4 linked regions of the Homo sapiens genome follow. The protein of the gene in region 2 purifies or fractionates together with the protein of the main gene of each other region. This does not show direct contact. Each region holds a gene or a part of one and is shown on either strand. Other genes may lie near its edges. The genes, in order: FAM13A, AHCYL2, PIP4K2A and NFKBIL1.

Evidence for each region.
Region 1: the proteins of AHCYL2 (region 2) and FAM13A purify together in Homo sapiens (affinity purification with mass spectrometry; 2 studies listed by BioGRID and IntAct, with this or other methods). This does not show direct contact.
Region 3: the proteins of AHCYL2 (region 2) and PIP4K2A purify together in Homo sapiens (co-immunoprecipitation; 3 studies listed by BioGRID and IntAct, with this or other methods). This does not show direct contact.
Region 4: the proteins of AHCYL2 (region 2) and NFKBIL1 purify together in Homo sapiens (affinity purification with mass spectrometry; 2 studies listed by BioGRID and IntAct, with this or other methods). This does not show direct contact.

Annotation. Positions count from the first base shown.
Region 1 is NC_000004.12:88,781,178-88,788,204, reverse strand, and holds part of FAM13A (protein FAM13A), read left to right. Parts: intron 1-272; coding exon 273-452; intron 453-6,853; coding exon 6,854-7,027.
Region 2 is NC_000007.14:129,389,029-129,396,055, reverse strand, and holds part of AHCYL2 (adenosylhomocysteinase 3), read right to left. Parts: intron 7,001-7,027; coding exon 6,857-7,000; intron 6,423-6,856; coding exon 6,322-6,422; intron 1-6,321. UniProt on the Homo sapiens protein: May regulate the electrogenic sodium/bicarbonate cotransporter SLC4A4 activity and Mg(2+)-sensitivity. On the contrary of its homolog AHCYL1, does not regulate ITPR1 sensitivity to inositol 1,4,5-trisphosphate.
Region 3 is NC_000010.11:22,711,552-22,718,761, forward strand, and holds the start of PIP4K2A (phosphatidylinositol 5-phosphate 4-kinase type-2 alpha), read right to left. Parts: upstream 3,028-7,210; 5' UTR 2,776-3,027; coding exon 2,632-2,775; intron 2,558-2,631; exon of another isoform or gene 2,385-2,557; intron 1,642-2,384; exon of another isoform or gene 1,499-1,641; intron 1-1,498. UniProt on the Homo sapiens protein: Catalyzes the phosphorylation of phosphatidylinositol 5-phosphate (PtdIns5P) on the fourth hydroxyl of the myo-inositol ring, to form phosphatidylinositol 4,5-bisphosphate (PtdIns(4,5)P2). Has both ATP- and GTP-dependent kinase activities.
Region 4 is NC_000006.12:31,550,599-31,557,625, reverse strand, and holds part of NFKBIL1 (NF-kappa-B inhibitor-like protein 1), read right to left. Parts: intron 1-7,027. UniProt on the Homo sapiens protein: Involved in the regulation of innate immune response. Acts as negative regulator of Toll-like receptor and interferon-regulatory factor (IRF) signaling pathways.

The sequences.
Region 1 (7,027 bases), on a different chromosome or scaffold from region 2:
TGTTGCTAGACTTGCCATGAGCATTTCAGCAATACTGGCTTCACAAAGATGAGAAAGTTGTTAAATTGGCAGAATTGTTTTCGTTTAGTTTTGGTTTTAACACATAATGCAGATATTTTTTAGATTAATGCCTCATCATCTCTCTTTGCTTATGAAGTTCTAAAGACTTTCCACTGGAAATACAGATGTTCCCAAAACTGTAGGCACAGATTTTTTAAGGTGATCACTGATGAACTTGACTGCTTGAATGACTCTGCATTCTTTTTTGCCAGACTCTTAGAAAGAACCATCCGATCAGCTGTAGAACAACATCTTTTTGATGTTAATAACTCTGGAGGTCAAAGTTCAGAGGACTCAGAATCTGGAACACTATCAGCATCTTCTGCCACATCTGCCAGACAGCGCCGCCGCCAGTCCAAGGAGCAGGATGAAGTTCGACATGGGAGAGACAAGTGAGTTGGCATTGATTCTTCCTCTTACTTGAGTTTTCTCTTTTTAAAAGAAATATACACCCAAATTAGTCGCTGTGTTATAGTCATACCTCCTGGTCCTCTCCCATTTCAGTATTTAGGTTAAAACTTTAAGAGTTATCAGTTTGTCCATTCTAAACTTAGCTACATTTGGAAATTCATAGGTAATTGCATAAATATTTCCGTTTCATCCAGACATTTGGTATGTTGTTAGAAGCCACCTCTGATTGAATACACCCTATGGCTTCCTCATAAATATCTTATTTAGAGGGATTCTGAACCATGGGCAGAGAAAGTTACCATATGCTTGTCCAGAGGTATTTTTTTTCTTGCTAGACAACATTAAGTTGACTATTTAGACTTGTTTATGGAGCAGCTGATTTCTCCATTATATTTATGTGATTAAATAGTCAGATATCCCTATAATACTCTGACATTTGATTATGTTTTAGTATAAGAAAGGTTGGGCTTAAATCTACTCAAAAAATGAAAAGCTTAAGTTGTTTATTATAATAATCACTAATTTTAAGGCATTCCCATAGTATGAATTTTAAGAATAGTGTTACAAAGAGCTTTATTCTCCATGAAAAGATTTAATAAAATACAGATGAACAATTACCATTTATATTATTTAATAATCATGACTTAAATTGTCAAGGAAAATAAATTTATATAGAGAATAGACTATACAGATATTCATATATTTTCCCTGAAAGTTCCAAGGTTATTTTTATTGACTATGGCCTTTAGCCTCTTTATGGTTTAATAATGACTCCTTATTAAATGTCAGAAACTAACCTGAACCAGACCCTAGCACCCCTCATTCTTTTTCTTTCTTTTCTTAATTTTTAATCTTTATGAATATATAATAGTCCCACACCCCTCATTCGCATTCTTTTTCACTTTGACTCATAATCTACATTAAACCCTTTATGGAAAAAGAAAAAAAACTTTTTTTCGCTTAAAGAAAAACATAAAAGATAAACAGTATAAATAAGTTTCATGCTATACCTCACCGAGATGTTTAAGAGCTATATTAGCAAATGTAATTTTAGAAATAAAGCAGTATCAATAATATAACCCACTGATTTACAAGTAGCATGTGCAGTACTTTTAAAATAAATTTTCATGGAGCTGGTGGATAGAATAGTTGTAATATTCCATTTAGAAAATAGAAAAAGTATAATATAGGAGATATTTACATTTCTTCTCCTGTGGCATGACATGAGATATTTACATTTAAAATTAGCTACTGACATGTTTATAGAAAGTGTTTAGAAGTATAATTAGTTTGTGTACTACCTCTAATGTGTTATAGAGAAAGCACAAATTATTCATTTAACACTGTTCTTATCCTCTGCCTCATTTTTTGCTGAGGAGTATGTAGCAACATTTTGCATTTTAAAAATATCCTCAGTGTGTCACGATATCCTGCTTTCCACCCTCTTTGTTTGGACAGAGGGCTAGCAGGTGGAGGTGGGAAGTGGTGGGGAGCATGAGAGAGAACAGAGAGTGATGGTGCTGTTGGTGGATGCTTGGCAGCAGGTCTGGGGGAGGACAGTGGAGGTAGAAACAGATAGGGGCCAGACAGGGCAGGGAAATGTGAAACACAGCCTCACCTCTCCTGAAGAATTTAAATAGAGAGCTTCCCAAGCCCAGGGACATTTCTTGCATAAGTTATCTTGATTGTTTTTTACTAGCAGTATTAGGAGAACCAAAGGAGATGGGGAATGGTAGCTGAGTGATGGTATGAAGACTATACCCATGAAACCCTAGCCTTTCCCTTAATTGTTCTTCTCTTGCTATTCCCTTCACCACTCCTCCTGGTCAAATCACAGTTGGGCATTGAGTGAGAGAATCTTGGGGTACAAACAGTACCTAACCTGGCACACTATGATACAATCGTGTCTTGATAGTCCTTCAACTCCCAGCCCACACTGAACGGCTTCTCTTAGCTCTCCAGGTCTTTGGAAGAGTGAGACCCTTATCTCTCAAAACCCCCAGATCCACTAATTTTGTCTGGCCCAGCTTTGACCGTAGGTCAGTAGTCATTTCCTGCAACCCCTCTCCCCTTATCTTCATGCTGGGTTCTGTTATCCTTTCACTCACCTTCTTTGATCCAGTGCTCTCATTCCGCTTGTTTCTTCCCAGCTCCACTCTTTCCTTTTGCTCATCTGCTTGCTTGAAATAGTTTTCCAGCAGGCTGATTCTTTCAGCATCTCCTCTTTGGTCTTAGATTTCTGTTTTAACCTTCCTTTCAATGAGCCGCCATAAAGGTCTTCTCCAGTATCTCCAGGAGAGTCATGAACATGTCATAAATTATAAGAAGATCAAGAATCATTAATATAGCCTACAGTCAAGAGTTCGTCATAGTATATGCTTCTATACAATTGATTCATTTAAGATTTTTCACAAGTCTTTACTCAAAAAATAAGGAAAAATTAAGCTAGGCTGTAATATTCTATTCAAAACTATAAGCTTTATGAAGTGGTTAAAAAGTGTTTAGAAACATAGAAATCTATTTATATTATTATCTATTATTTTGCCTCTAGTAACTTAGAGATGCAACAAATTAAAAAATATTCTTGAAGAAGCCAATGATGACTATGTTTCAAGATGAGTAGAAGGGTCAGTAAAGTCATACTAAAGTCGTCATGGCCCATTTTTGAAATAGCAGTACCGAAGATAGACAAAGACTACAAATAACTTCATTCATAGGTACAAATGATTTGTTATTTGTCTAAATTCATAAGGAAATATAATCAGACCTATATTACTATTTGCTACAATTTTGTAGCAAATTAATCTTCATTATGTAATAATAAAATCTTCATTATGTAAAAATATTCAGCTAAATTCATTTAGTAAAAAAATCTACTATCTGCCAAGTTTACAGAAATGTGAAATTTTGGTAATGGGTATATGGAAGTCTGTTATGATAGTGTCTCTACTTCTGTATATGTTTGAAAAAAATCATAAGAAATATTTTTTAAAAGCAAAGCATCATTTAAGTGAAAATGATTTTCAATCTTCTAAAAACACAGTGAACTGGAAAATTGATCCAAATGTTTCTTTGTTATATAAAGACTATATTAAAATCCTACTGCAAAGTAAAAGAAAAGCAGGCTATATTTGGGGAATAATAAATAGTTCAGCATTGCCAGGACATTAAGTAAGTATGTAGGGGTGAGGAGAAAATCCTGAAAAAAATATGGAAATAAATCTAGATAATGAAAGTGAGAGGTCCAGAGATCTAAGTTCAGTGAAATCCAAGTTATGTCAAATGTGATTGAAATCTGACAGAATATTGCAGGAAGGAATTGAGTACACCTGCTCCATCTAAGATTAGATTTAAAGAAATACAACCATGTGTTTTATACAGAGCTGTATCTAAATAAAGTGCCCCTGAAGTCTTCAACAGTGATAATTGAGCACCCAGTACTATAAGGTGATTCAATGATGAAAAACAGATATCGCATCCAGGCTCATGGATCTATAGTGTAATCGAAATTAGAGTTCAACAAAGTGAAGTAGAAGAGACACGTGGATGCACGTAAAAGCAAAGACTTCCCTCGGAGGAGACAGGATTTGTCCATGAGCACAACAGCATGGTCAGATTTTCATATATTTATTTTGACAGGATTTTTTCTAGTCATTCATTCACTATTCAAAATGATCATAAAATAAACTTTACTTTCTTATTTTTAAAAATCGTTTTTAGCTGTCGTCTTTAGTCTGCTTGGGCTGCCATAACAAAATACCACCGACTGGGTGGCTTAAACAACAAAAATTTATCTTCTGACAGTTCTAGAAGCTGTAAGTTCAAGGTCAAGGTGCTAGAAGTGTCCGTTTCTGTTGAGGCCTCTCACACTGGCATGCAGATGGCTACCTTTTCACTGTGTCTGCACATGCCCCTTCCCCTGTGTGCACACTCCTGATGTCTCTCCCTCTTCTTACAATGACATTAGTCCTATTGGATTAGGGTCCCACCCTTGTTACTCTTTTAACCTTATTTACCTCCTTAAAGGCCCTGTCTCCAAATATGGTCACATTGGGGGTTAGGACTTCAAAATGTGAATTTTGAGGGTACATAAATCCGTCCATACTAGCTTTAAAGCATTAAAGATCCTCCATTTAAAGGTTATAATTGGGGCTGGGCGCAGTGGCTCATGCCTGTAATCCCAGCATTTTGGGAGGCCAAGGCGGGCAGGAGTTTGAGAAGAGCCTGGCCAATATGATGAAACCCCATCTCTACTAAAAATACAAAAATTAGCCAGTGTGGTGGCGCATGCCTGTAGTCCCAGCTACTCAGGAGGCTGAGGCAGGAGAATTGCTTGAACCTGGGAGGTCGAGTTTGCAGTGAGCCTAGATCGCACCACTGTACTCCAGCCTGGGCGACAGAGCAAGACTCTGTCTCAAAAAATAAATAAATAAAAATAAAAGTGAAAAAAAAAGTTATAAGTGGACATATACCCCAAAAGCTAGGTTAATGGATACGAAAACATAGTTTGCAAAAGACCTAGTATTTGTTAGGACAACAGGGTGATTAGAATAAAAAATAAATTAATTATACATTAAAAATATCTAAAAGAGTGTAATTGGATTGTTTGTAATACAAAGAATAAGTGCCTGATGGAATGGATACCTCATTTACCTTAATGTAATTATTATGCATTGCATGCCTGTATCAAAATATCTCATGTACCCTGTAATTTATGTATATACACCTACCGTGTACACACAAAATTAAAAATAAATAAAAAACAAACAGAAAAAAAGGCTAGGAAAACTATGAAGAGTGATAAGATAGAATTTAAATAGTAAAATAAATAATTTTTGAGTTTTAGAATTACACCAAATTGATCCAGCCACCCACAGAAGGCACTGCTCTCAGTGCGTGGAGGGGAGAGATTGAGGAACATGTGCATGAGTATAAGTGCTTGCATTTAGTCCCTATCATCTTCTCCTCCTGTCTTCAATTACTTTGTACTTAGAATATCTCTTATAAATGTGCATAAATCTTTTATATAATTTTACTAAATATATATTTTCACATTAAAGTTGTAGAAAAAAGACTAAAATATGGAGTGTTAAAAATTACCAAAGATAGTATAACTTTGAAAATATTATGATAGTATTTAATTCATAATTTTGCCTGTTATACCCTGTCTAAAGATATGAATTTAGATTTCAGAATAAATATTTAATGTTATCTTTCATTTTGGGATATGGTTGAGCCAATAGTAAAATATGATATGTATTTTTACTCTTTAGAATTCATTTATTTCAAGATGCAGTTTTAGGTGTTTAGGGAGGTACATTAACTCACTCATACCACGAAGGAGGAGAATAAAGTCTCATTTATTTGTTCCTTACCAAGCCATGGTGCTGTGCTGATGGTTTTATTTGTTCCATGATATTGTTTCTTTTTTTTTTTAACTCAGTTTGCTAATTTACTCTTGTGAAAACCTATTATAGGAATGCTTAAGATATTAATACTTAAAACTGTTTTATGAACATCAAATGAATTAAATTCTATGACATTCATATCTACTTCTACAACTATGTCATGAAAGAGGTCTGTACTTGGAAGTAACAAATCCAGATTTCAGTTAAAATGCTTTGTATTCCATAGTTTTTATTAACTTATATAATTTCTACTAAGATTATCTATTAATAATTCAATGAGATTGAAATACACATTTCTTTTTTTTTAATTTTTTAATTTTTTTTATTTTATTATCATTATACTTTAAGTTTTAGGGTACATGTGCACAATGTGCAGGTTTGTTACATATGTATACATGTGCCATGTTGGTGTGCTGCACCCATTAACTCGTCATTTAGCATTAGGTATATCTCCTAATGCTATCCCTCCCCGCTCCCCCCACCCCACAACAGTCTCCGGACTGTGATGTTCCCCTTCCTGTGTCCATGTGTTCTCATTGTTCAATACACATTTCTACACTACTAAAATGGAAGATACAATTCCTTTTTAGATTTTTCTCCATACACTGTATGAATTTATAAATTTTAAATATATATATATTTAAACATCTACTGTGAATAATAGGAAATTTCTGTATAAACTTGCACTGTTCTCCCTTTTTGAATACAAATTACTTTTGGTAAAATACAAAAGCTGTCCATTGGTAGAAACAGCCCTTGCCAATTTGCCTCTAGGAATTATTTCTCTTTCAATGTGATTTATTTGGCACCAAGCAGTCCCAGGAGTGGCACTCTGCTCAGATTTTGATCAGAGATGCATACTGGAATTTCTGGGCACTCTTTGGATTTCCTAGGTATGATATGATGTAGTTAGAGTATCATTCAATGACCATTTGATCTTTTAAAATAAAATTAAGCTTTTTTCTCAATTCAAGGGGACTTATCAACAAAGAAAATACTCCTTCTGGGTTCAACCACCTTGATGATTGTATTTTGAATACTCAGGAAGTCGAAAAGGTACACAAAAATACTTTTGGTTGTGCTGGAGAAAGGAGCAAGCCTAAACGTCAGAAATCCAGTACTAAACTTTCTGAGCTTCATGACAATCA
Region 2 (7,027 bases):
GCCAAACTTTTCTTGAGCCCATCAAAGATTTGAGGTCATAAAGCACAGAAGTGAACTGCCCTCCAAAGAGTGACAAATCCTTTTAAAGAGAGAGGGAAGACTGTTTCACCTTTGGCAGTGCATGGGGGGAAGAAATGGCTGCCACAGATAAGAATAAGAAAATATCAGCTAAACTTTTGAACAATTACGAAAGGCTGGGTGTGGGAAAGTGTGTCAATGTGGAATTTTTTGAAGCTCCAGACACAAGTAGATTTCCCATTCACATGCAGGCTGTTTTCCAGAGGCTTCCACCCAGTGCTCAAAACAAAGACTGGGGCAGGGAGCTGATTGGCTGTGCTCAGAAACAGACATGAAACCTGGGCACTTCCCTACACTCTTCTCTCATAGGAACCAAAGCCTCAAGCTGTAGGAAGAGCAGGAATTGGGCCTGCCATTAGGGACTAGGCAAAGATCCACTGTGTCTGGAGGAAGGCAGAAGCAAAAACTCTGCCTCTGGGAGAGGCACAGGAAAACCTCTTGGGCCCAGGACAGTTCACTGATACAAAGTAAGGATCTGCTACCTCTCCAGCTCTCCAGGAAGGGCAGGAAAATATGTCTTGCCCAAGACCCACCACAGATTCAAGGCAAAGTTTGGCTGCTACAGATAGGAGAGGCAGGAATATTGAGAAAACCCTGCCCCTCACAGAGGTCTGCCTAAGACTGAGACTGCACCAGAGATCCAAGAACCCCACTTGCCCTCACCGTGTGCTTAGCCCCAGGAAACAAAGAGCAGCAGTCTAGTGCGGCAGATGAGGCAGGTACTTGAAAAGAGGACACTTCTGTGGCACACATGTGCAGAAGTAGCTGAAGGCTGAGGGTAAAGCAGAAGCACTGAGGAATGTCCTTTGGTAACCTCAAATCACAAGGTTATAGCAGTCCACTGCTGGAGGAATTTGAAGCCTTTGTTGATATACAATGAACTCTAAATTCAGCCCAATTCATGACTATAACGAAAACTAATATACTACCACTCAATTAAAAATGTCAGGACATACAAAAAGTAAAAAAAAAAACCCACTGTCAGGAAATAAGTAAACAACAGAGGCAGGCTCTCAGATGAGCCAGATGTTTGATCAGACAGGAGATATAAAATAACTATGATTAATATGTTTATGTTATTTATTTATATTTTTTTATACACAGGATCTTGCTATATTGCCCAGGCTGGACTAATATGTTTATGTTAAAGGATCTAGTTGAGAAAGATAGACAACATCTATGAATAGATAGAAAATTTCAGCAGAGATGGAAACAATAAAAAGTCAAATACAGGCTGGGTGCAGTGGCTCAGGCCTGTAAAGGCCAGCACTCTGGGAGGCCAAGGTGGGCAGATCACCTGGGGTCGGGAGTTTGAGACCAGCCTGACCAACATGGAGAAACCCCATCTCTACTAAAAATACAAAATTAGCTGCTTGGTGCCACATGCCTTTAATCCCAGTTATTCGGGAGGCTGAGGCAGGAGAATCGCTTGATCCCAGGAGGTGGAGGTTGTGGTGAGCCAAGATTGCACCGTTGCACTCCAGCCTGGGCAACAAGAGCAAAACTCTGTCTCAAAAAAAAAAAAAAAAAAAAAAAAGTCAAATACAAATGCCAGGAAAAAAAAAAAGTCAGATTAAAAGTTCCTTCAACAGGTTTATCATCAGACCGGGCACATCCAAGGACAGAATCAGTGAACCTGAAGATAGACCAATAAAAATTACTGAACTGAGCCAGGCACAGTGACTCATGCCTGTAACCCTAGCGCTTTGAAAGGCTGAGGCAGGAGATCGCTTGAGGCCAGGAGTTTGAGACCAGCCTGGGCATCACAGCAAGATCTCTTCTCTACAAAAAATTAAAAAAAATTAGCCAGGCATAGTGGTATATGCCTGTAGTCCCAGTTACTTGGGAGGCTGGGGCAGGAGGATCGCTTGAGCCCAGGAGTTTGAGGCTGCAATGAGCCTGCAATGATTGTACCACTGCACTCCAGCCTGGGTGACACAGTGAGACCCTACTCAACAAAACAAAACAACAACAAAAAAAGAAATTACTGAACTGAAATACAAAAAGAAGAAGACTGGCAGAAAAAAATCACAACGGAGTGCTCAAAATCTATGGGGTCTATGGGAGTCTATGGATTCTTTCCCTCTTTGCCTTCTGGAACTCCAGTTACATGTATGGAGAGGGAAAAAAGAGGATCTGGGAACAATGACATTTCAAAAGCAAAGAGCACATTAGTGCCCAGATCCACTAAAAGGAGCTAGGCATTCTGGGAGAAATGGCTGGTTCCAAGAGTAGGGCATGGAATGTTCAAGATGAGCTTAGGTGATCTTGTACCAAAAGCAAGGAAATGTTCAAAGAATGAAAGGGATATATCAAAAGACAAAAGAAGTCACAGAAGCCACACTGAAGAGGCTCTCCCTGGTCAAACTGGGAACAAGATGATCATGTAAATAAGTAATGATAGTAATGGATTATAACCTATTAAATAAAATAGGAAACAATGATTCCATACAAATAAAAATAATGAATAAATCAAAGTAAGATAAAGAATGAGATATTTACAGTTTCATAGTACTATCTCACATAAACATATTAATTCTATTTTTATTTATTTTTGAGACAGGGTCTCACTCTGTCACCCAGGCTGGAGTGCAGTGCAATCTCAGCTCACTGCTCACTGCAATCTCGACCTTTCGGGCTCAATCAATCCTCCCACCTCAGCCTCCCAAGTAGCTGGAACTACAGGCACATGCCACCACACCTGGCTAACTTTTGTATTTTTTTGTAGAGATGGGGTTTTACCATGTTGCCTAGGCTAGTCTTCAACTCCTGGGTTCAAGTGATCTGCCAACCTTGACGTCCCAAAGTGCTGGGATTACAGGCGTGAGCCATCACACCCAGCCCAAAAAACATATTAATTATAAACTGGGAAAAAAACTTTTACAGAGGAAAATCCTGGGAGACACCACCTCAATCAAGGGATTAAAGTGAATATCATCAGTTCTGGGACAAACTGAAATCATGTGTCACCTGATAGGATATATCACTTCCCTGAATTCCCACCATAGATGTATAGCCTGAATCTCATAATGAGGAAGCATCAGAAAAATCCAAATTGAGGAAATTCTACAAAATAATTCATCTGTAATCTTCAAAAGTGTCAAGGTCATGAAAATCAAAGAAAGACTGAGAAACTGTTCTGTACTAATGAAGATTAAAAAGACATGACAACTAAATGTGACATATAACCATGGACTGGATTCTTTTGTTAGAAAAATATTATCAGAACAACAAGCGAAACTCCAGTGGGATCTAAGGATTGGATGGTAATAATGAATCAATGTTAATTTTCTACTTCTGATGGTTATACTGCTAGTACAGGAAAATGTCCTTCTTTGTAGAAAATACACACTAAAGTATTTGGGGATTGCTATGGTCTGAATGTATGTTCTCCTCCCCCAGAGTCATATGTTAAAAACTAACCCCCTAGGCGATGGTATTAAAAGGTGATTATGGAAGTGATTGGAAGGTGATTAGACATGAGATTTCTGCCCTCACAAATGGGATTAGTGTACTTATAAAACAAGCCTGAGGAAGCTTGCTTGCCCCTTTGGCCATGTGAGGGCACATAGAAAGCGCCATCTATAAGGAACAGGCCCTCACCAGATACTGAATCTGCTGGCGCCTTGATCTTGGACTTCCTAGCCTCCAGAACTGTGAACAATAAATATCTATTGTTTATTAATTACCCAGTCTAAGGTATTTTGTTATAGCAGCCCAAATGAACTAAGACAAGAGTGAAAGAGTATTAGGTTGGCAAACAAAGCATAATTTCTTTGTCGTTATTTTTTTAAAGGAAAAAAATGTGGGGTGGAAACAATAAATTAATATTAAAATTGGTAAGCTAATTGTGATCAATCCATTCAGGAAAAAAATAGAAAGGGAACCATGAAAGGTGGTAATGCTCACTGAGCCTAAGGGTAAAAAACAAACTAGATGTAATTCAGCAACATGAGACAGTAGAGAAGCACTTACTATTTTAAGCTACCACACTGAAGTCTCATGTCGCTGACTGAGCAGGCCAAAAAAGATTCAAGAGTGTTTCTGTCTTGATTCATTAGTTTGTAGCTCCAAAACAGATAGCTTTTCAATTTATTATATTAATTTTGAGCAGTCAGGGTACTCTTGTCCTCAGAGAACACATAACCCAGAAAAGTTTCATAGTGAAGATGCTAATAGAAGCTGTCTGTACCTTGAGGAATCTCTAATGTTCTTAATCAGGAATGTGACCACATAAGTGTTGTGCTTTGGGAGAGACAATCTTTGGAAAGCTGATCTAGCCACACAGATGACCCAGATCTTATGAATCCCCATAAAAGATTCCAGACCACTGCTCAATATAACAATTTCCCGATAGTGGTCTCATTATGGTTAGCAACTCCATATATATTGCATCTCTGGTGATAAAAGAGGAGATCTAGAAAATTGTGGGGGCATTTTTGGTTGCCACAATAATTGGAAGGGGAGTGCTATTGGCATTTAGTGGGCAGGACCAGGAATCTGGACATTTTGAAAGTGTCTCAACAAAAAACTGTGTTGCAGCTGGTACAATTTTCAAATGTCCCAATAAAAGTTCCCATGGGTGAAAAACCTATCTACAATTATCTGAGTTTAGAACCTAATTCCACTTTACAAATTAGCAAAAAGTAGTTTTGTAGTTTTAATACAAAACAATAGTTTTTCCAGGAATGTAACAGCTATGTAAATGAAGAGAAAACTCATACTTTTTGTTGTTCTTATTGTTTAGAAGATTACAAAAAGTTGTTTACTATTTCAGAAAATCATGGCAATGCTGCTCTGATGCTCTGGAATCAATAACACATTTATTTCTGTCTTCAAATAATACTATTTCAAATAATACTGTGAAATAGTACAAATATCTGATTGTTCTACTATAGTTGTCCTCAAGTATTTACATATTGAAATACACATTATTTTAAGTATTGTACTTTTTTTATTCCTCCTTCATATTTCAGTTAAGATTTTATATTGATTTATTTTTAAAGATTATATGTACCTGGACATGTTATATCTGAATTTCATTTCAGGATAGTTCAGGGACACTGCAAAAAAAAAGTTTTTTAATAAAAAGGGGACATTAAAACTGATGAGAGTAAGGTAGGAATCACTGGTGTAAGCAAATCATGGTAATTCCACGCCCCTCGGTAGGACTGGTGGAGCACAGATACATGATCCAGTTCTGCCCAATGAGACACGATGGAGTATCCTGGAGGGACTTCTCTTGAGTGAGGAAGAAATGGTCCCTCTTCCTTTTCATGTCAGTTTGTGATGACTAGAATAGTTGTAAGCATCTTGCTATCAGCTTTAGGGTGAAGTAAGCATACTGAGGAGGCAGCTCCAAGAGAATCAGAGAGGTGAAGCTGGAGCCCTGAGATCCTGCATCTGAAGTCTGCCTTCCCTTTGGACTTTCTGCTATGTACTGTGATAAATTCCTTTATGTGACATAACTTTTATTACAGTCTGTTGTTGTAATTGCTCTCTTTTATTTTGAGTTACTGTTGTTCATTTCTTACTGTGCTGAATTTATAGCTGTCTCTCAGTATCCTCAGGGGATTTATTCCAGCACTCCCATGGATACCAAAATCTGAGGATGCTCATGTCCCTTATATAAAATGATGCAGTGTTTGCATATAATCTGTGCACATCCTTCTGTATATTTTAAAGCATCTCTAGGTTATTTATAGTACCCAATACAGTGTAAATGCTATGTAAATAGTTGTTATATTTCTTGTTATTTTGTATTGTTGTATTATTTTATTTTCTGAATATTTTTGATCTGCAGTTGGTCAAATCCTCAGGAAGCAGAACTGGTGGACATGCAGGGCCAATTGCATAAATTAAACTTGATTATAGGTATATATGTATAGGAAAAAACATAGTATATATAGGGTTCAGTACTGTCTGAAGTTTCAGGTGTCCACTAGGGGTCTTGAAACTTATCCCCCACAGACAAGGCAGGGGGACTACTGTATATTGAAGTTAAAATCTTGACTCTGTGATTTCTAGCTGTATAACCTTAAACAAATATCTTAAGCCCTCTGAGCCTCAGCTTCTTCGTTTATAAAATGGAAACAAGAATACCTGCTTTATATGGCCATTATAAGGATTAATAAGCTAATACTTGTTAAGCTCTTAACTCGGTGCTTGGCATGTTGTAAGCTTTCAGTAGCTCGTGGCTATTATTAACTATTGTAATTAAAAGGAGAAAAGAAAAGAACTCACAGCAGTCTGAGCAGTGATGTGTGTGCAACCCACGATTTTGGCTCCAGCCAAAGGCTTTTCTCCTTGAGCTCTCTTCCTCAAAGCCATCAATGCAGGCATTTCTGAAAAGGCCCAATAAATACAGCAATATTAAAGAAGAAGGAATAAGAGATAAAAGAACAAACAGAAAAACTTGTTTTCTTAAGTTAAGATCCTTCCCCTGATCAGGTTAGATTAGGTTTCTCCAGGGATCAAGACATTAAACCTGTATTTTCCTTTATAAAGGGCTTTTGGAGGCAAATGCTCCAGGGTTCTGATTCTCTATATTCCAGTCCTTATCCAGTCTCTCTCCCTTTTTTTTTTTTTTTTTTAATACAGGGTTCCTTCTAGACTTGCCAGATTTCCCCAGTGTTTCTTGAACTCACATTTCTTTTGTTATAAGTATTCTTATCACATAGAAATTTCACAAGCTACCAGACCCCAGACATAAAAAGGGATTAATATGGACAAAAAGACACAGGTAGGTTAAGAAGGAAAAGGTGCTTGTTTTCTTTACCTTGTTCAGCAATTTCAATTTCTCTTCGTCCAAACTCTGCCTGTTTGATGTTCTTAACACAGAAGTCACTGCTTCCCTTAGAGTTCTTTTGCTGCTTGTCCCTGGGCGATGTCTCATCATCAGAGCTATCTGTATATGAAGCCGCTGGAATGACAGAATAAAAAACACTCG
Region 3 (7,210 bases), on a different chromosome or scaffold from region 2:
AGTTCACAGATGCAAACACTGATGCCAAAACCTGACCTTAACATGCCCAAGGTCAACAGTTAGAATTTAAGAAAAACTTAAAGCGCAGATTCAATGAGCGTTTTACCACAGTATGTGGAAGATGCTCGTATACAACACCATGCTTGTTTGTTCTTAAGACTGCTGACATATTTATTCTCACATTATACTATAAACTTTGGTGCACAGAAGGTCATATAAAACATTTATCTAATATCAGACATTGTCACCTAAAATGAAATCAAACCAGAAATACATGGCATCTAAGGGTTTTAGATTTCATGTTTATATTACACCTCCATTCTTTTTTCAAAAATAATATAGTAAAGAAAATAGACATTTTGAAAAAAAAGGCTGTGAAACAGACCTTTCTTATGTCAACTCAGAGCCCTCAAAATAAAGACAGTTGGATAAAAATATTAGAGGTGTTTTAGCAATTCTTCCCACAGTAGCTGGCACTGTATGTGCCCAATATATATCTGTTGAATGAGTAACATGCTTACATTTATATGAAATGGAAACTTCACTCCTCTGGTTGTGGATACTTAGAACTGCCAACTTCTCTTGAGAGCAAAAGAAAATAACACCAAATGTACTATTTACAAGTCATACACTATGAAACACTTAAGTAGTTTCAAAATATTTCCAATTAGCAAGAAACTCTAAAACAAATGTAGCAATTCATAAATATAAGGTAGCAACGTAAGTGGTTACAGTAAAACATACACAATTACAAGATTTTTTAAGGCAAACTGGAATTCAGACGAGTTCCCAGAAAGCACACTCTTTTTCGGCAGCATATTGTTGACACTACCTTACTAAATTAAACCCCGAGACAGAAACACTCTCCTGACCAAAACACCAGAACTCCAAAGGAGATAAAAGCACCATAAATATGAGTAAGCACTACAGTATTCATCCTTTTTTTAAATTGTAAGTTTCTATTCTAGTAATAAGGGACCCAAAAACTACTAACATAAATAATAAAAGAGCTTAACAAAATTATACATAACTCTACATTGTAAACTTATTACTTAGGAAAAATTGCATTTCATTTTCCGTAATAAAACTTGAGAGAGGAGTTTTTGGTGCAGTAATGCATGCTCTTGTAACAACTTACATTCCCAAATAGCTAAAGAAGTTGCCAGGAAGTTAAAATGAACTTCAGTGAGTCAGTCATTAAGCTGGATAAAAATAATCATTTCTCAACTTTTCCAAAAACACTCACTCCATGCAAACACGATCGATCCTGATACTGTTTTGCCCTTCCCCCTGCTCAGCTTGGGGAAGAAAAATACAAAAACGATGCTTTTAGGCATTTTAAACAACTTCACTACATTGAGGGTGTGTGTGTGTGTGTGTGTGTGTGTGTCTGTGTGTGTGTTTTCCGAAAAACCAGCATGGTTTTCTGTCATTTCCATTACGCTGAAAAGGACATACAGACATCCATCGAAATCAAAAGCAGGGAAAGCGAACTTACACTTTTCCCCAGATGCTAAGTGACTGCAGTGGCTAAGGTCATGGTCAAAATTCACAGCTCGTTTAAACTTTCCTGGCTGAGCCAACAGCTCCGATCATGTTTCCTGATCCTATCGAAGTGGATTAAAACTGCAGGAGTTTCTCGCTGTCAGATCAGCAGGAGGCTATTTCAGACCCTCGAACCGCAGTCCGCATAGCCCGCAGCGGCGCATCCTCCAATCCCCGACTGTGCGTGACGCTAACCTTTCCACGCGTTCTCCAGCCTTTCCCACACCCCCCACAGCGGGTGCGGCCAACTCGGGACCCCCTCCGCCCGCGCCCGCCGGGACCCCCGCCTGCTGTCCCCGCCCCGGCCGCCCTTCCGCAGTCGGTGACTTCTGCCTGACTCCCCAAAGTGGGGGGAGGCGACGAAGGGAGGAAGACTCCCCGCCAAGGGCTCTCCAGCCCGCACAGCGGCAGGGCGATGCGGGAGAAGCGCAGGGATGCCGCCCGACGCCAGAGCCATATTTACATCGGCTGCTGCTTTGCCAAAAAGCCGACTTGTGCCCAGTAATATTGCCTTTAAAGGAAAAAGAAAGGACCTAAGCACTAAAGCTGCTGCCCCAAATCTGCTCGCGCTCCGGTATCCTCGCCCCAGTGCCCCAGTGGGAGGCTCGCACGCGCCCAGCCCGGGACAGGTACACCTGCCCGCAAGCGGAAGACGCGGGCGCCGCGCGGCCCCCACACCGGGTAGCGGTCGCCCGGACCCGGCCCCCAGCAGCTCCCGCCGGGGCTGACAGCCGAGGCGCCGTGCCCCGCACAAACTTCCTACCTCCCAGGCTGCGGGGACCGACCTGCGGGCGGGCGGGCGGACCGGGGGCGGCACTGGCACCCACCGTGAGACTCACATGCACACGGGACCCCCGACCCGCACCGGGCCATAGATCTAAAGGGGACGCAAGTGGTGGTGCCTGGGCGGCCCAGAGGGCTGGGGGCACGCGCCGCGGGGCTGGGGGCTTCGAGGCGGGCGAGCAGCCGGAGGTCCAGGGCTGACTCCGGCTCCCCGCCCCGCAGCAGCTGCAGCCGGAGGAGGAGGGGAACGAGGAGGAAGAGGAGGAGGAGGAAGGGGACCGCGCGCCGCAGCTGAGCCCTTACCGAGTGGTTTACCCCCCACATGAGGACGCTGAGCAGCGGGTCGCTGGCCCGAAACAGCTTCACTTTCTGCGCTACGAAGTGCTTCTTCTTGGTCTTGGTCTTGCTCGCCAGGACAGAGGACCCTAGGTTGCCGGGGGTCGCCATGGCCGCCTCCTATGTCCCCTCCACCGCCGTGCTCCCGAGGCCGGGGACCCGCCCTCTCTACACCCCGGCCCGGGGAGGCAGCCGCATCCCCCCGGCGGCGGCCCCGGCGCGCCGCGCTCCGCTCCGCCCGCCGCCGCCGGCGCGCTCAGCCCCACTCGGCTCGCTCCGCCCGCTCGGCCCGGCAGACTGCGCTCGGCTCGCGCCCCGGCCCGTATCCTGCGCCCGCCGCGGATCCGCGCTCAGCCCGCGGCTGGACCCGGCGCGCGGCGAGCGGCTTCCGCGTTGGGCGCCGGCGTCATGACGCAGGGGGCGGGCGGGCAGGCGGGAGGCGGCTGCGGCGCCGCGGGCGGGGCACTGGGTGCGGGGCGCGGGGCGCGGCAGCTGGACCGTTAGGCTGCGCCTTCCCGCCCCGGCTCCGCTGCAGCCGGGCCGCCCCCTGTGCGCGGGCGACCTCCGGGCGTTCGCTCCCTGCCCGCGGAGGAGGCCGTGGGTTGCGAGCGGGAGCCTGGGGACCCCGGCTAGGCGTCCCCTGCCGCTCCCCAAGGAGGGAGAGGACAGAGTGGGCAGAGTGAGGAGGTTGGGGAGAGGAGCCCCCAGGCGTCGATCAGGCGAAGGAGGGAGGCTCATGCACTCACCCACGCCACGAGTCAGGAGACCCAGCCAGGTGTGAAATGCTGCAGGGAGACCAGGGCTTCCCAGCACCGAGGGGAAGGACCCGGGCACATTGCCGGGTCAGTCCCTGAAATGAACTTAATACTTTTGTGCGGATAACCGTCTGGCCTTTCAGACCCTCGATATGGGCCTCCTGGAGCCATTCAAGAGGGAGACTCCCACGTAATAGGCTGGGCTGTCACTGCCAACCCACTCCGTGCCCGGGGCAGGAACCTCGGACCTCATCGAGAGCCCTTGGCTTAACCAGTAGAATCATGCCCCAAAGTGCACCTTCTTCCAATCCATCACTATGGTACTTGCCATCCCTGCCTGTTTTCCAGTGCACTCACCGTCCGTGGAAATCTGTTCACCGTCTTCCTCCAGATACACCTAAATGTAGCCCTTATTATGCTGAGAATACTTGGCCTACCTCAGGAAGCTGCCATTCCAAGTATGTCTAAAACCCTGCTGCCCCCATATCGTCCTTGCAGTCGTCATCCTGTGCTATTTACTCTGACCCAGCTCACCAGTCCTCACGGAGTAGGTTCTTGGAAACTGTCACCTTAAGCAAAACAACATATAACAAAACCAAATTTGCCATAGGCTGACATATAAAAAAAGAGTTAAGTTCCTACAGCATTATTTCCGGTTACAAAAACATCACCGAACTTCAAAGTAAAAATTCAAAACACTTCTAATATTAAACATTAAAATAAATGTGAGCTATACCTCTTTTTTATTTTTATTTTTTCCCTTGAGATAGGGTCTCGCTGTGTCAACCAGGCTGGGGGTGCAGTGGTGCAATCACAGCTCACTGCAGGCTCTACTTCCCCAGACTCAGGTGATTCTCCCACTTCAGACTCCCCAGTAGTTGAGACTACAGGCGCGCACCACCAAGCCTGGATAAACTTCTTGTATTTTTGGTAGAGATGGGGTTTCACCATGCTGCCCAGGTTGGTCTCGAACTCCTGGGCTTAAGGAATCTGCCCACCTTGGCCTCCTAAAGTGCTGGGAATACAGGCACCAGCCACTGCACCTGGCCTACCTACATTTTTTAAAGATTGATAAAAACAAGATAATGGTTTGCCAAATTTCTAGTGATTAAGTGAGCGATGGTTGCTGTGGTGCTGGGTTAAGTCAAGGAATAAGTGTTTGCAAAGCAAAAGTTGCCTGTAGGACCTGCTGCTACCATGAAATTCAAAAACAATCACAAATATGGTAGCTGAGTGCACTCCTATCTCATTTATTGTCGTGCATTTTTATGATTAATGTACACTTACATATTTTTATTTTACAGTCATTTGTTTCACGGATTTATTCATTTTTCCAACTCATTTATTCCAGTTCAAGGTCACAGATAGTGGGAGCCTTATCCCAGCTGCTCAGCTTGGGCAAAAGGTGGGAACCATCCCTGGATAGGATGCCATTCTGTTGCAAGACACACACACACACACACACACACACACACACACCACACACACACACACACACCCCTACACTCACTTAAACTGGGACCATTTAGGAAGGGGGCAGTGATTCATGCCTGTAGTCCCAGCACTTTGGGAGGCATGAGGCAGGTGGACTGCTTGAGCCCAGGAGTTGGAGACCAGCCTGAGCAATATGGTGAAACCCCATCTCTACCATAAATACAAAAATTAACCAGGCATGGTGGTACACACCTGTAGTCTCAGCTATTCTGGAGGCTGCAGTAGGCGGATTGCTTGAGCCCAGGAGTTGGAGGCTGCAGTGAGCTGTGATAATGCCACTACACTCTAGCTTGGGTAATAGATGGAGACCCCGTCTCTTAAAACAAAAAAAAAAAAAGAAAAGAAAAACTACTGGTATCATGTAGACAAGCCTATGAACTGAACGTGCATGTCTTTAAGATGTGAGAGGAAACCAAGGTACCCAAAGAAAACTCTTGCAGGCACGAGGAGAACCTGCAAATACAAACAGTGGTCCCGGCTAGAAATCCATTTTTTTCTCATCAACATTATAACAAAACAACATTGAACAAAATGACAGTATTTGAGGACCCGCTGTAAGTTGTCTGTTGTCATTATTACTCCACTCAAATATAGTAGATACCTTCTGTGCCCTTGGCAGACTGCTTGGTCCTGTCAGGGAGATGAAGGATGACAGGCCATTATCCCTTTAGGATCTTGAGTCTCCTCAGGGGTTGAGGGGAGGTCATGTGGTCACCTTCATTTGCTCCTATTCTTTCTTTGACTGTTTTTTAAGTCCCCTCGTCGTAATTTCCTGCTTGCTTTCATCCAAAATGATATCTGCTTCTCCAGCATCAACCATCACTGCTCTTAGTGGTTTAAAAAAGCCCAAAACCTAAATTTTTAGTGAGACATCACGGGGACTGAGCTGTAGCTCTCCCACTTACTTGAGCAAATCACTTAACCTCTCCCAGCCTCGGGTTCTTTATGTTAACAGTAACTATCATCAGACACAAATGTCACTTTAGGAACTATTTTGAACCTAGTAATATAATCCTCCCCTACCTACATTATAGGATGTTTGTTAGAATCAAAATCAATAGTAGATAATGGCAATGAAAACCCTTTGTAAACCAGACAACACAATAGAAAATGTAGAGTGCTTGCAAGTAACTCATAAACTCTTCCCCGACCCCAGAGAAATGCCTGGTTGCACATTTGTACATCATTTTTCCACAGGCATCTTTTAAAAGTGTCTAAAACCATCTGGGCATGCTGGCTGATGCCTGTAATCCCAGCACTTTTGGGACGCCAAGATGGGAGAATCACTTGAGCCCAGGAGTTCAAGGGTAGCCTGGATATAATAGCGAGATCTCATTTCTACCAAAAAAAAAAAAAAAAATTTAAATTAGCTGCACATGGTGGTATGCATCCTGTGGTCTCAGTTACTTGGGAGGCTGAGGCAGGAGGATCACTGAGGCTGCAGTGAGCTATGACTGCACCACTGCACTCCAGCCTGGGCAACAGAGCAAGACCCTATCTCAAAAAAAAAAAAAAAGATATCTAAAGCCAAGTTTGACATCTTTCCCCATCCACAAGTTACTTTATTTCTTGTATTATATTGGAAATGGCATTCATATCACTCGGTTACCCCAGCTGGAAGTTCTTTTATTTAACAAATTTTCATTGGCCAGGCTTGAAGGCTTACCATCATCATCAATTATTGCCTTTCACCACCACCCAACCTAAACTCCTTTATTGGATCCTGCCCTTGAAAACAATTAGACTCAAAAATCCTCTCTTCCCTGATGCTTTCCTGATCCTCCTAATTCAAATTCATCCTTCCACCTCAGTGCTTCCATAGCATTTATTTGTTTCATAATAGCTATATTATACTTAATTTTATATTAATAATGCAAGACAATAGGCTTGCTGCAACTGCCAAAAAACTGAATTTAGTGATGACAGAGTGCTGAATGACCCTAGAGGAAGAGGGGATGGATACCTGTTGTTAGGAGAGGCTCCGCCTTAGGAAAGCAGCAATCTGTGGGTGGGTGCAGAGGCCAATAGCACCATGTGAGGGACAGATAGGGGCATAGTGTGGTATTTTTAGGTAGTTATGAGGAGACTTGCAGGTTTCAAAGGACAGAATTTCTGGTGATTTAACATGTTTTGAAAGCCATCTAACACAATACCATTCACAAATACATCATTAAATTATTTATTTATTTATTTTATTATTTATTTTTTTTGAGACAGGGTCTCACTCTGACACCCAGGCTGGAGTGCAGTGGCAAGAACACAGCTCACTGCAGCCTTGAACTCCTGACCTCAAGCCA
Region 4 (7,027 bases), on a different chromosome or scaffold from region 2:
GTTGGTGGGAGAGCAGGGAGCAGAAGTTAGCTGGGACTCCCACTCCTCGGCAGAGCTGCCATCTTGAATCCTGCTGGTCACTCGCTCCCTTGGTCTTAAAGCAATGGAAGGGTGGCTCACATGGATGCCTCCTGGGTATTAGGAAATAACCATCACTGATAAATACAGACTGATAGTTTACCACATGCATGGTAAGTGTGGTAGTTTAAAATATTCTCGGCCAGGCGCGGTGGCTCACGCCTGTAATCCCAGCACTTTGGGAGTCCGAGGCGGGCGGATCACGAGGTCAGGAGATCAAGACCATCCTGGCTAACATGGTGAAATCCCATCTCTACTAAAAAATACAAAAAATTAGCCAGGCCTGGTGGCGGGCGCCTGCAGTCCCAGCTACTCGGCAGGCTGAGGCAGGAGAATGATGTGAACCCGGGAGGTGGAGCTTGTAGTAAGCCGAGATCGTGCCACTGCACTCCAGCCTAGGTGACAGAGCAAGACTCCGTCTCAAAAAAAAAAAAAAAAAAATTCTTACTTGTGTCTCCACAAACTATTTCAGCGTCCTAGAAGTTCTACCATGCCAACTGACATTTTCTGACCTGCCTCCAGCCACCAAGGCAGTGCCCAAATTCTTTGACTATGTATTCCACTTTTCACTTAAAAATATTGTCACTATATAAATCCCTTATTTTCTCACCTGAAACCATATATCAGACTGGGAAAATATCTGAATGCTCTACTCTGGGCCATTAATAAATACACAAATATGTAATACTTATCTTTTATTATCACTTATCAATAAACTGAGTAAAATAAATGTTTTCAGGGGAATTTCTCTCAGCCAGCCTTACCAGGGGATGATGGGAGAGGGGTGGGGAGGTGAACCGGCAACAACTATGGCCGGCGGCAGAGCAAGCTCTTTCCAAATGACTGCTGACCTAGGGCAGGGGAAAGGGAGTGGAGTGTGACAGAGGGTCTCACCCATGGGCTGAGAGAAAACAGGAGAGGAACCGACGTTCCTGAACTCCCCTTTTCTTCAGTCCCAACCTTGCTGCATCTGGCCCAAGGTTAGCTGAGTGCCATGCTACTTCCTTCACTGCCAACCCAGGCATCCTGGCCAGGCCCACCTGCTGTGGCCACCAACCACCTCTTTCACTTGGGGGATAGAAGAAGGGGAGGGAGGCAGCCTTCCTTCCTGTGGACCTACTTTCTTTCCCCGGGGTAAGAGGAAATGGGCTAGCAGTCCTTAAATCTTTATTTGGTAGTGCTGGAAAGTACTGTTTACCTGGCAGAAAGCTGGAATAGGGGAAGGCAAGGCCAGGAAGGCAAGAAGACAGAATGGCCCAGGTGTGGCTGGCGAAGGCCCACCATCCCTACCCAAATCACATCAGGGTTGGTGGGGGGGGGCACTTCTCCCTAGTGCTGCTGTGACCTGTCACAGACCCTCTCAACTTGTCCCACCCAGAAAGTACCTGGTCCTGTCTCTCATTCGCTTGTTCCCCACCTGAGCTCAGGTGGTGAGCATGGTGAGTGCTCAGGCTTGCATGGGAGGTTTACATTCATAGGTTTTAAGGAGTAGGGCCTCCAACTATAAAAACATAATATTAAACAGCCACTACAACTGAGGCATGTGTTTGAAAAAAGCTGGCTACAAAACTGTAGAGAGGATCAGATGTGGCCAGGCACGGTGGCTCACGCCTGTAATCCCAGCACTTTGGGAGGCTGGGGGGGGGGGACAATGGATCACAAGGTCAGGAGTTCAATACCAGCCTGGCCAAGATGGTGAAAACCCGTCTTTACTAAAACAAACAAACAAAATATATATATAATTATATTTTATATTATATATAAAATTAGCCAGGCGTGGTGGCTGACGCCTGTAATCCCAGCTACTTGGGAGGTTGAGGCAGAGAACTGCTTGAACCTGGGAGGCGGAGGTTGCAGTGAGCCGAGATCGCGCCTCTGCATTCCAGCCTGGGTGACAGGGTGAGACTCTATCTCAAAAAAAAAAAAAAAAAAAAAAAAGAGAGAGAGAGAGAGGATCAGATAATAACTGTCTAAAACAAGAGACCAAATCCTATGGTTGGAAAAAAAGAGGCCGGGCGTGGTGGCTCATGGCCTGTAATCCCAGCACTTTGGGAGGCTGAGGCGGGTGGATCACCTGAGGTCAGGAGTTCGAGACCAGCCTGGCCAACATGGTGAAATCCTGTCTCTACTAAAAATACAAAAATTAGCCAGGCGTGGTAGCATGTGCCTGTAATCCCAGCTACTTGGGAGGCTGAGTCAGGAGAATCACTTGAACCTGGAAGGCAGAGGTTGCAGTGAGCTGAGATCATGCCAGTGCACTCCAGCCTGGGCAACAGAGGGAGACTCCCATCTCAAAAAAAAAAAAAAAAAAAGAAAAAAAATAGACTGGCAAAAAATATGTAAAAATTCTAGCCTATGGGTGGTGGGGCTGTAGGTGGCTTTTCCCCCAATTTTATTTGACATTTTAATGTGAAAGGGATATAATTAAGTTGAAATTTTCTTTTTAAAGAAGGACGAACAAATTTGATAACTATTAACAGTGTACTGTGATCCCTTCCAGTCCCACCTTGGTGTACCTAAAAGCATACATATGACACATTTATTTGGAGATATGTAACCATACTACAAATATTGCTTGGCAACTTGCTTCTTTCATTTAACATCTCATTTATATTTTTCCACAGGAATATATACAGTCTACCTCATACTTTTTGACGACTTTATAATTAGTGTTCCACTGTGTGTACAAAACAAATCTCCTTACCCCAATATCGATAGACTTTGTTTCAAAAAATGTTCAGCCTCATGAGTATCTTACAGTCTTTCTGTGGGGGTAGATTTTCATAAGTGGAATTTCTGAGTCAAAGGACATGCGCAATTTGGTCAAACTGCTCTCAATAAGTTTGTGCCAATATACAAGTGTGCCTATGTCTTCCTTTACCAAAATTGAATATCATCAACCCTTTTAATTTTGCCAGTTGGATAGATTAAAAAATTATTTTATTAACAATGTTTTTTTCTTTTTCATGTCTTTTGGCTATTTGTATTTTTTGTGAATGAATTGCTCATATTCTTTATCCACTTTTTCTTTGGAAATTATATATATTGATATGAGGGTTCTATATACTGTATGTGTTATACATATTGCAAACATTTTCTTCTATCTATCTTTAAAAAAGCTTTTTTTTTCTTTTTGAGACAAGGTCTCACCCTGTTGCCCAGGCTGCAGTGCGGTGGCATGATCTTGCTCACTGCAAACTCTGCCCCACCTGGGCTCAAGCGATCCTCCCACCTCAGCCTCCTGAGTAACTGGGACTACAGGACGACAGCCACGTACCACCACGCCTGGCTAATTTTGTATTTTTTGTACAGACCAGGTCTCACTGTGTTGTTCAGGCTGGTCTTGAACTCCTGGCTCAAGTGATCTGCCTACCTTGGCATCCCAAAGTGTGGGATTACAGGTGTGAGCTATCGCACCCGGCCTAAAATTTTCATGTAGTTAAATCTATATCAATATATTATTTTCTGACTTTTTATTTCACTTCACTCTTAGGAAGGCTCTATTTTAAGATTATAAAACATTCTCTGCATTTTCTTCTACTACTTTAGATGTATACTCATTTTTATTTTTAGAAATTAAAAAACTCGGCCAGGCGCGGTGGCTCATGCCTGTAATCCCAGCACTCTGGGAGCCCAAGGTGGGTGGATCATGAGGTCAGGAGTTCAAGACCAGTCTGGCCAAGATGGTGAAACCCCGTCTCCACTAAAAATACAAAAATTAGCCTGACGTGGTGGCGGATGCCTGTAATCCCAGCTACTTGGGAGGCTGAGGCAGAGAACTGCTTGAACCCGGGAGGCAGAGGTTGCAGTGAGCCAAGATTGCGCGACTGGACTCCAGCCTGGGTGACAGAGTGAGACTCTGTCTCAACAACAACAAAAAAGAAATTAAAAAACTCTCAAAAATACAAAGTATAATACAATACACAACCCCATTCCTACCACAGGGTTTGTTAATGTACTGTCATGTTTGTAGTATAATTTATTTTAAGGAAATAAAATCATCACAGATAAAGGTAGTTTACCGTGATACCGCCTTCCAAGTTTCATTCCTCCCCAGGCCATCTGTCCCATGAATTTGGTGTGTACCTTCCTGTCATATTCAGGTATTTAATCTGCTGGAATTTACTTTTTGATTAGGTGTGAGGTGGGACTCTTGTTTTTCCCTAGATGAGCCAAATGTTCCAATATTATTTATAAAATAGTTCACCTGGTCAGGCACAGTGGCTCATGCCTGTAATCCCAGCACTTTGGGAAGCTGAGGTGGGTGGATCACCTCAGGTCAGGACAGGAGTTTAAGACCAGCCTGGCCAACACGGTGAAACCCCCATCTCTACAAAAATACAAAAATTAGCTGGGCATGATGGCAGGTGCCCAGCTACTCAGGAGGCTGAGGCAGGAGAATTGCTTGAACCCGGGAGGCGGAGGTTGTAGCAAGCTGAGATTGCGCCATTGCACTCCAGCCTGGGTGACACAGCGAGACTCTGTCTCGGAAAAAAAAAAAAAAAAAAGTTCACCTTTCTCCAGTATTAGAAATGCCCCCTTTAGGCCTGGCGCGGTGGCTCACGCCTCTAATCCCAGCATTTTGGGAGGCCGAGGCGGGCGGATCATGAGGTCAGGAGTTCGAGACCAGCCTGGCCAACACAGTGAAACCCTGTCTCTACTAAAAATACAAAAAATTAGCTGGGCGTGGTGGCGGGCGCCTGTAATCCCAGCTACTTGGGAGGCTGAGGCAGGAGAATGGCTTGAACCTGGGAAGCGGAGCTTGCAGTGAGCCGAGATCACACTACTGCACTCCAGCTTGGGCGACAGAATGAGACTCCATCCCCCACTTCGCCAAAAAAAAAAAAAAAAAAAAAAAAAAAGAAATGCCGCCTTTATAGCGATTTACCAGATCAACCGTTCTCAATGCTCTTTAATACGCTGGAGTTTCATACTAAGAAAAATAAACATAAAAACATTTTGGCCAGGCGCTGTGGCTCACGCCTGTAATCCCAACACTTTGGGAGGCTGAGGTGAGCAGATCACAAGGTCAAGAGATCGAGACCATCCTGGCTAACATGGTGAAACCCCGTGTCTACTAAAAATACAAAAAATTAGCCAGGCGTGGTGGCATACGCCTACAGTCCCTACGCCTATAGTCCCAGCTACTTGGGAGGCTGAGGCAGGAGAATCTCTTGAACCTGGGAGGTGGAGGTTGCAGTGAGCCGAGATTGTGCCACTGCACTCCAGCCTGGGCGACAGAATGAGACTCCTTTTCAAACAAAACAAAACAAAACAAAACAGAAAACAAAAACAAAACCAAAAGACATTCTGTGGGATGGGCACGGTGGCTCATGCCTATAATCCCAACATTTTGGGAGGCTGAGGTGGGTGGATCACTTGAGGTCAGGAGTTTGAGACCAGCCTGGCCAACATGTTGAAACCCCATCTCTACTAAAAACACAAAAATTAGGTCGGGCATGGTGGCTCATGCCTGTAATCCCAGCACTTTGGGAGGCCGAGGCAGGTGGATCATCTAAGGTCAGGAGTTCGAGAGCAGTCTGGCCAACATGGTGAAACCCCATCTCTATTAAAAATACAAAAGTTAGTCGGGCATGGTGGCAGGCTCCTGTAGTCCCGGCTACTCAGGAGGCTGAGGAAGGAGAATCACTTGAACCCAGGAGGCGGAGGTGGCAGTGAGTCAAGATACTGCCACTGCACTCCAGCCTGGGGAACAGAGGGAGACTCCGTCTCAAAAATAAATAAACAAATAAAAATTTAAAAATTAATAAATAAAAATAAAAAAATTAGCTGGGCATGGTGGTGTGTGCCTGTAATCTCAGCTACTTGGGAGGCTGAAGCAGGAGAATCGCTTGAACCCAGGAAGCAGAAGTTATAGTGAGCCGAGATCATGCCACTGCACTCCAGCCTGGGCGACAAAGCAAGACTCCGTCTCAAAAGGAAAAGAAAAAGGAAGCTGGAAGCTGAATGAGATGGGCCTTTCAACCAAGGAGTTAGAAGGCCATCTGGTGGCAGGGCTGGCAGAGGACCAGGAGTAAATAAGGCCAGAGAGGACACCAGGGTCTGGGAGTGAAGGCACTGAGCTTGGGTCCCCCTTTGGAAGACAATGACCTGAGAGCTGTGAGATTTCAGACAAGTTCCCGAACCTTTTGGGCCCTGCTTTCCTCATCTGTAAATGGGATAATATCAGTCTCACCAGCTTCTTAAAATTCAATACAATGGAGTTGGGTGTGGTGGCTCACGCCTCTAGTCCCGGCACTTTGGGAAGCCGAGGTGGGCAGACTGTTTGAACTCAGGAGATGCAGAACAGCCTGGATAACATAGCAAAACAGTCTCTACCAAAAATACAAACAATTAGCTGGGCATGGTGGTGTGTGCTTGTAGTCCCAGCTACTAGGGAGGCTGAGGTGGGAGGACTGCTTGAGCCCACGAGGTAGAGGCTGCAGTGAGCCATGATTGCACCACTGCACTCCAGGCTGGGAGACAGAATGAGACCCTGTCTCAAAACAAACAAGCAAACAAACAATAAAGGAAATCCCTACCACACTATCAGGGGCATTTTGGCTGAGCGCGGTGGCTCACGCCTGTAATCCCAGCACTTTGGGAGGCTAGGCTGGCAGGTCACCTGAGGTCGGGAGTTTGAGACCAGCCTGACCAACACGGAGAAACCGTCTCTACCAAAAATACAAAATTAGCCGGGCGTGATGGTGCATGCCTGTAATCCCAGCTACTTGGGAGGCTGAGGCAGGAGAATCTCTTGAACCCAGGAGGCAGAGGTTGAGGTGGGCTGAAATCGCGCCATTGCACTCTAGCCTGGGCAACAACAGGGAAACTCCATCTCAAAAAAACAAAACAAAACAAAAAACAAAACTCCCATTTTTGCGAGGCAAATTGGGCTCACAGAGGTAAGCTGCATGTCCCTGTTGATGGCAGAGCTGGGGTCTGGATG